Homo sapiens: one gene and its partner. The protein of the gene in region 2 purifies or fractionates together with the protein of the main gene of each other region. This does not show direct contact. Each region holds a gene or a part of one and is shown on either strand. Other genes may lie near its edges. The genes, in order: TBC1D2 and ZBTB43.

The links.
Region 1: the proteins of ZBTB43 (region 2) and TBC1D2 purify together in Homo sapiens (affinity purification with mass spectrometry; one large-scale study listed by BioGRID and IntAct). This does not show direct contact.

Annotation. Positions count from the first base shown.
Region 1 is NC_000009.12:98,206,822-98,210,649, reverse strand, and holds part of TBC1D2 (TBC1 domain family member 2A), read left to right. Parts: intron 1-1,505; coding exon 1,506-1,982; intron 1,983-3,828. UniProt on the Homo sapiens protein: Acts as a GTPase-activating protein for RAB7A. Signal effector acting as a linker between RAC1 and RAB7A, leading to RAB7A inactivation and subsequent inhibition of cadherin degradation and reduced cell-cell adhesion.
Region 2 is NC_000009.12:126,811,540-126,815,347, reverse strand, and holds part of ZBTB43 (zinc finger and BTB domain-containing protein 43), read right to left. Parts: intron 1-3,808. UniProt on the Homo sapiens protein: May be involved in transcriptional regulation.

The DNA of each region.
Region 1 (3,828 bases), about 29 Mb from region 2:
CTGGCGGCCCAGGAAGGGCTGGTCTATGTGAGCTGGCGGCTCCTCCCCAGCTGCCTTGCTGCCAGGTCCTGCCAACCATGTACAAGTCCTACACAGCACTACCTCCTCTGATCTTCACATGCATTAGTGTGCGGCTGCAGCTGAGATGGTTCACGCTCAGAGGAGGCAGCCCCCTGCCATGGCCCTATAGTACATTTGCGGCACAGGCTGCCTCCAGAGCCCCATGCTTTCCATTTATCTAGGCTGCCTCCCAAATGTGGCTGCCTCCCAGATGTGCCTGTCAGAGAGGGGACGAGGGGAGACAAGCAGGCCATCTCCTCTGCACCAAGGCCTTGCTGAGCACAGTGGACATGGGCAGTTAAATATAACAGAAAGGAGGGTGGCTATGCTCGAAGGCCCCTGGAGGCTGAGTAGTCCAGTGGCAGGAGCTCGAGCTTTGGAGCCAGCCCTGGCCCTCTCACCGTGTGACAATTCCCTTTACCTTTCTGAGCCTCGTACTCAGCCTCCATAAGATATGTGCAAAGAGCTGGGCACAGTGGCTCATGCCTGTAATTCCAGCACTTTGGGAGGCTGAGATGGGCAGATTGCTTGAGGCCAGGAGTTTGAGCCCAGCCTGGGCAATATATTGGAATCCTGTCTCTACAAAAAAAAAAAAAAAAGAAGAGTGGTGGTGCACGCCTGTAGTCCCAGCTACTCGGAAGGCTGAGGTGGGAGGATCACTTGAGCCCAGAAGGTAGAAGCTGCAATGAGCTGAGATTGCAGCACTGCAGTCCAGCCTGGGCAACAGAGTGAGGCCCTGAAAAGAAAAGAAAAGAAAGGAAGGGGGGAAGGGAGGGAAAGAAAGAAAGAAAAAGAAAGGAAGGAAGGAAGGAAGGAAGGAAGGAAGGAAGGAAAGGAAGGAAGGAAAGGAAAGAAGGAAGGAAGGAAGGAAAAAAAAAAGATTTAGGCAAACACACCTGCTTTGCAGGATCATTAGGATTAAATGAGATAGTGCAGGCAGGGCACAGAGTGGAGGTGAGTCAACATTGAATAAATCAAAGGCCTTCTGGAACGGGTCCCCAGCTGTCCCACCTGTCTGTCATTGGTGCTGTCTGTTCCCCGTCCACCCCTGCGCTTACTGGCTGTGGTAAGTGGGGTTCTGTATGCACAGTGCAGGACTCCTTGGGCCTAAGGCTGCATGGAGTAATAAGAGGGTCCTTTATATTTGCATAGAATTAGTAAATATCTCTTGGGCATTTACTGTGTACCAGGCACTATCTAGGCCCCCAGCATCTTACAACAGAGGATCTCGTTGGGTCTTTAGGAGGCAGAGCAGGGATTCCCATATGCATTATACAGATTCGCAATCTGAGGTTGGGAGAACTGAAGTGACCTGCCCAGAGCTGTGTGGTTAACCCTCAGTGAAGGCAGGGCAGGAACCTGGCCTGGGGTCCTCCCTGTCACCACCACCCCTTATCTAGGGAAGGGCTCTGCAAGGTGTTGCTAACGTGCACTTTTGCTGGCAGTAAGTATGATGAGTACGGCTTCCTGACGGTGCCCGACTATGAGGTGGAAGACCTGAAGCTGCTGGCCAAGATCCAGGCATTGGAGTCACGATCCCACCACCTGCTGGGCCTCGAGGCTGTGGATCGGCCGCTGAGGGAGCGCTGGGCTGCCCTGGGCGATCTTGTGCCCTCAGCCGAGCTCAAGCAGCTACTGCGGGCAGGAGTACCCCGTGAACACCGGCCTCGTGTCTGGAGGTGGCTGGTCCACCTCCGTGTCCAGCACCTGCACACTCCAGGCTGCTACCAGGAACTGCTGAGCCGGGGCCAGGCCCGCGAGCACCCTGCTGCCCGCCAGATTGAGCTGGACCTGAACCGGACCTTCCCCAACAACAAACACTTCACCTGCCCCACCTCCAGCTTCCCCGACAAGCTCCGCCGGGTGCTGCTGGCCTTCTCCTGGCAGAACCCCACCATCGGCTACTGCCAGGGCCTGAACAGGTAAGCCACCAAAGCCCAGTGAAGGTGTGATCTTTACCTTTTGGAGCGCAGGTCCCCAACCCTCAGACTGTGGACAGGCAGCCATCTGTGGCCTGTTAAGGGGCCGCACAGCAGGAGGTGAGCAGTGGGCGAGAGAGCATTACCACCTGAGCTCTGCCTCCTGTCAGATCAGCGGCAGCATTAGATTCTCACAGGAGCGTGAACCCTATTGTGAACTCTGCATGCGAGGGATCTAGGTTATGTGTTCCTTATGAGAATCTAATGCCTGATGATCTGAGGTGGAGCAGTTTCAAAGCCACCCCTCCCCTACCCCAGTCCATGGAAAAATTGTCTTTCATGAAACCGGTCCCTAGTGCCAAAAAGGTTGGGGACCGTTGTTTTAGAGCACTGCTGTCTCTCTTTGGAGCCTCCCAAGAACCTGAAGACATGAGCCTAGGTTCCCCACCCACAGGCTGGTGAGAGGACATGTTCAAGACAGAGATGGGCCAGAGCTCAGAGCTCCAGGCCCCTCGTCCCTGCTCTCTCCTTTGATTTGTGCTTGGGGACGTACAACTTACATGGCCTCTCAAACTTTGGCCTGCTGGAATCTACAGGGTAAGGCCCCACTCACATATGGCAGGACTCTCTGGATCAGGAATCATTCGCTTTCAGTGAAACCCATGCAGAAGACCCGGGGAAAAGAGACTTTCTAAATGTTACAAGGGGAGTTCACAGAAGCCAGGAAAAGAAAACACAGCTGAGGACCAGATGGTCATTGGAAGCCAAGGCAGCTGCTGTCTGCAGCAGGGCTGCACCCCTGCACAACCCCAGGGGGCAGCCTTCATGCCACAGTCCTGGGATGCCATGACCTGAGCTCGTATAGCACCAAGGTACTGCTCTGCTGCCCTCTGCAGCTGCATGGCCTCTGGCCTCTCTTCATTCTGCGTGTCTGCTTCCTTCTCTCTCAGCAGACCAGCCTCTGTCCATTCATTCATTGGACATTTAGGGACCATCGAAGCTGTTAGAATGGAGACCTCAGCCCCTGAGTCTTGAGCCTTTCAGTGAGTCTTCCCACCCCACCCCTCATGTTCCAGTTCTAAATTCCCCAAAGAAAAAATCTGATTGGCCCAGCCAGGAATAATTTCCACTTCTGGTCCAATTGGTAGGGGACGCAGGGAGGGACTGGGGTTAGGGGATGAGGTCACCTGGTTCACAGGGCTATCTCCCCTCCAAGACTGTGAGGGACTGTCATCCCCCCGCTCCAGCCCCAGCTATTTCAGTAGAAGCTGCATAGTTGCAAATATTTTCCCAAAGCAAGTTTTCACTCGATTTAATTTAAACACACATATACCTAAGCAAAATTTACATAAGCCATGCTGCTTTTTTTTAGAATAGGTGGTGTGTGACATTTATTTAACACAGAATCAACATTCAGTGTCCTTACTCAAATTTGAGTGGTTCCCAAAGGTAGATATTTTTCATACTCTATTTCCAGCCTAAAATTGGGTGAAATTGAGCATGTGTATGTACAATTCCTGGGAATTAAGAGTTAAACTCCAACAGTAATGCCTCTCAGTCGAAGCCTCCTTGGAAAATATGTTCAGATTTCATGCCACACTAAACGTCTGCCACAGGTCAGGTCTGTAGAAATTTCATTCATTCAACAGTCTGACAAAAGCCCCTGTACTTCTCATTTGTTTGAACATGTTAAAATCCAGAAGAAACAAAACCTGCAAAGCCTCTTCTAAGAATAGCTGTGAAGGGAGCTGGAAGCTATGAGATCAGAATGAATAATAATTTTTGCATTTCACACAAAAGCCAGGTAGGAAGTAAAGCATAATGGGGGCCTCTTGGATGCCAGGTGTTT
Region 2 (3,808 bases):
TGAAAACTATATATATAGTTTTATATATTGAAAACTATATATATAGTTTTATATATTGAAAACTATATATATATAGTTTTATATATTGAAAACTATATATATATAGTTTTATATATTGAAAACTATATATATAGTTTTATATATTGAAAACTATATATATAAACAATACACACATACACACATACATTTTATACATATGTGAAAACAACAGCCAAAACTTTTTCAAATTTGATGAAAACTACGAACTCACAGACCTAAGCAGCTCAACAAACTCCAAGCACAAGAAACATGAAAAAAACTACAGCAAGGCACATCATAATCAAATCACTTAAAATCAGTGGAGAAAATCTTAAAAGCAGCCAGACAAAAAAAAGGCCCCTTGTGTACAGAGAACCTCAGAAGCAATGCAAGCCAGGAGACAGGAGACCATTTTAAAATACTGAAATGAAGGTGGGGGAGGGGGCGGAAAGGCCTGTCAACTTAGAATTCTATACCCATGAAAGTATCTTCAAAGTGAAGGCAAAATACTTTTTCTTTCTTTCTTTCTTTCTTTTTTAGACAGAGTCTTGCTCTGTTGCCCAGGCTGGAGTACAGTGGTGCAATCTCAGCTCACTACAAGCTCCGCCTCCTGGGTTCACACCATTCTCCTGCCTCAGCCTCCCAAGTAGCTGGGACTACGGGCATCCACCACCATGCCCGGCTAATTTTTTGTATTTTTAGTAGAGACAGTGTTTCACTGTGTTAGCCAGGATGGTCTCGATCTCCTGACCTCGTGATCTGCCCACCTCGGCCTCCCAAAGTGTTGGGATTACAGGCGTAAGCCACCGCGCCCGGCCCAAAATACTTTTTCAGACATAGAAAAGTTGAAAGAATTTATCACCAAAAAGGTCAAAAGTTTAAAAAAAAAAAAGTCACATGAAAACAAAAGTCAAGCAACACAATACTAATATCAAAGTAAATTTCAATGTAAATTTACTTTGTAAATTTCATCTGTAAAATTTTTACAGATGTAAAATTTACATTTTACAGATGTAAATTTCATCTGTAAAAATTTTACAGATGTAAATTTCATCTGTAAAAATCAGGATGAAAGTTTATTGTTAACTGATGAAACCTATAATTCACAATGAAGTTTACTCTGTGAACTTTTATGTGTCAGAGTACAATGTTAGAAAATAAGGCAACAGTAACAGAACTGTAATTGTAGCAGGAAATATAAGTATCCCTCTTTAATTCTTAATAAATCAAGTAGGCAAAGGACAAGAATCTATAGGTTTAGACAGCTATCAATAAAGCTAATTTAATGCAATACCTATATACTCTACAAATAATACTCCTTTTCTACTGTCTGTAGGACATTTACAAAAATGATAATATACGTGGCTACAGAGAACATCAATAAATTCTCCAAAGCGGAAATGCACAGGGCACATTTGATTACATGTGACTATACAATGGATTACACAATATGATAAAACTAGAAATGTAAAAAGTAGAGGGGGAGAAGAGGACAAGGCAATAGGGTAGGAGAAAATTCATAAATTTTATACAAAACTCTGGTATCAAAATTGGCCAACAACAAAAAAAACCCTACAAGCCAATCTCACTTATTAACATAGAAAGAAAAATTATAAATCACATGGCATTCTGGTTTGTATACTTTAATCTCTTGCGGGTTTGGTACATCATAAGTATGATATGTTGAAGACACTGAGTTATTGGTCCAATCACACTAACGGCAAGATCCTAGATTATGGTGAAATTACCATCAGAAAGCCATTTCAGATCTCCCTCGGCTCTCTTTCACTCAAGACTAACCCTGGTGACACACACATCATTACTTGTGCTTCCTTCTATGAGTGACAATGAGTGATGGGAGATAAATCTAGAAAAAGCCGAATGAGACGTCTACATTGGGGCAGCACTGAAAACTTCTAAGTGACGTGCTGTGAGGCATGGTTAAGGAAGGTTGATCTGCTGACGGACTAAAGCAGGAGAAAGTCTGAAGTAGAAGCTAATTATAGGATTTCAATAAGTGTAGTCTAGGTAGTAATAAAAGTAACAGTGGGGCCAGGCATGGTGGCTCACGTCTTTTATCCCAGCATTTTGGGAGGCTGAGGCACGTGGATCACTCGAAGTCAGGAGTTCCAGACCGGCCTGGCCAACATGGTGAAACCCTGTCTCTACTAAAAATACAAAGTTAGCCGGGCGTGGTGGCACACATCTGTTATCCCAGCTATTCGGGAGGCTGAGACAGCAGAACTGCTTGAACCTGGGAGGCGGAGGTTGCAGTGAGCCGAGATCATGCCAAAGCACTCCAGCCTGGGCAACAAGAGCAAAACTACATCTCAAAAAAAAGAAAAAAAAAAAAAGTAACAGTGGGTATGGAAAAGGGGTGGCATTGATGAGACTGACAGAACTGGTCAGCAGGAAGATACAGCAGTAGTACAAGGTACAAATGATACCATCAAGAAAGTGAACACACAACCCACAGAATAGGAGAAATTATTTGCAGATCATGTAACTAATGAGTGACTTGCATCCAGAATACCTCAAGAACTCTTATGACTCAATAATAAAAAGATAAATAACCCAACTGAAAAACAGATAAAGGATCTGAAGAGACATTTCTCCAAAGAAGATATACAAATAACCTATAAGCATATGAAAACCACTCAACATCATTAGTAATTAGAAAAATGCAAATCAAAACTACTAAACATCCCTTTTCACTCACTAAAATGGCTGTCAAAAGACAGACAGACAATAACAGGTGTCGGTGAGGATGTGTAGGTATTATAACCTCCATACATTGCTGGTGGGCATGTAAAATGGTACAGCTACTGTGGAAAGCAGTGTGACAGCACCTCAGGGAGTTAAACATAGAGTTACCACGTTAATTCAACAATTCTCCTAGGTACATACCCAAGAAAAATGAAAACATATGATGTCCACACTAAAACTCGTACATGAATGTTCATAACTGCATTATTCTTAAAAGCCAAAAAGTGAAAACCATCATAAGCTCCATCAACTTATGACTGGATAAACAAACAGGATATATCCTTAGAATAGGATGTTTGGCAATAAAAAAGAACGAAATACTGATAGATGTGACAACACGGCTGGCACTTGAAAACGTTATGCTAAATGAAAGAGGTCGGACACAAAAGGCCGTATCTTGTATGACTCCACTTATATGAAATGTCCAGAATAGACAAATCCATAGAGACAGAAAGTAGATTCGTGGCTACAGGTAGAAGAAATGGGGAGCAACTGCTAACTGGGTTTCTTTGAGGGGAGACAAAAGTTCTAAAATTAGATTGTGGTGATGGGTATACAAATCTGTGAATATACCAAAAAAAAAACCTCTTTATTACTTATGAATTATGTCTCTGTAAAGCTGTTTAAAAAAGAGTAATGTGGCCGGGTGCGGTGGCTCACGCCTGTAATCCCAGCACTTCGGGAGGCCGAGGTGGGTGGATCACAAGGTCGGGAGTTCGAGACCAGCCTGACTAATATGGTGAAACCCCGTCTCTACTAAAAACACAAAAATTAGCTGCGTGTGGTGGTGGGTGCCTGTAGTCCCAGCTACTCGGGAGGCTGAGGCAGAAGAATCACTTGAACCCAGGAGGCGGAGGCTGCAGTGAGCCAAGATTACCCCACTGCACTCCAGCCTGGGCGACAGAGTGAGACTCCATCCCAAAAAAATAGAAATAAATAAAATAAAGAGTAATGCAAGGCAAACTGATGTACCAATGCCGACTTTGAATTTCATGACTGAGTGACTAGGAAAATGTCATCATTA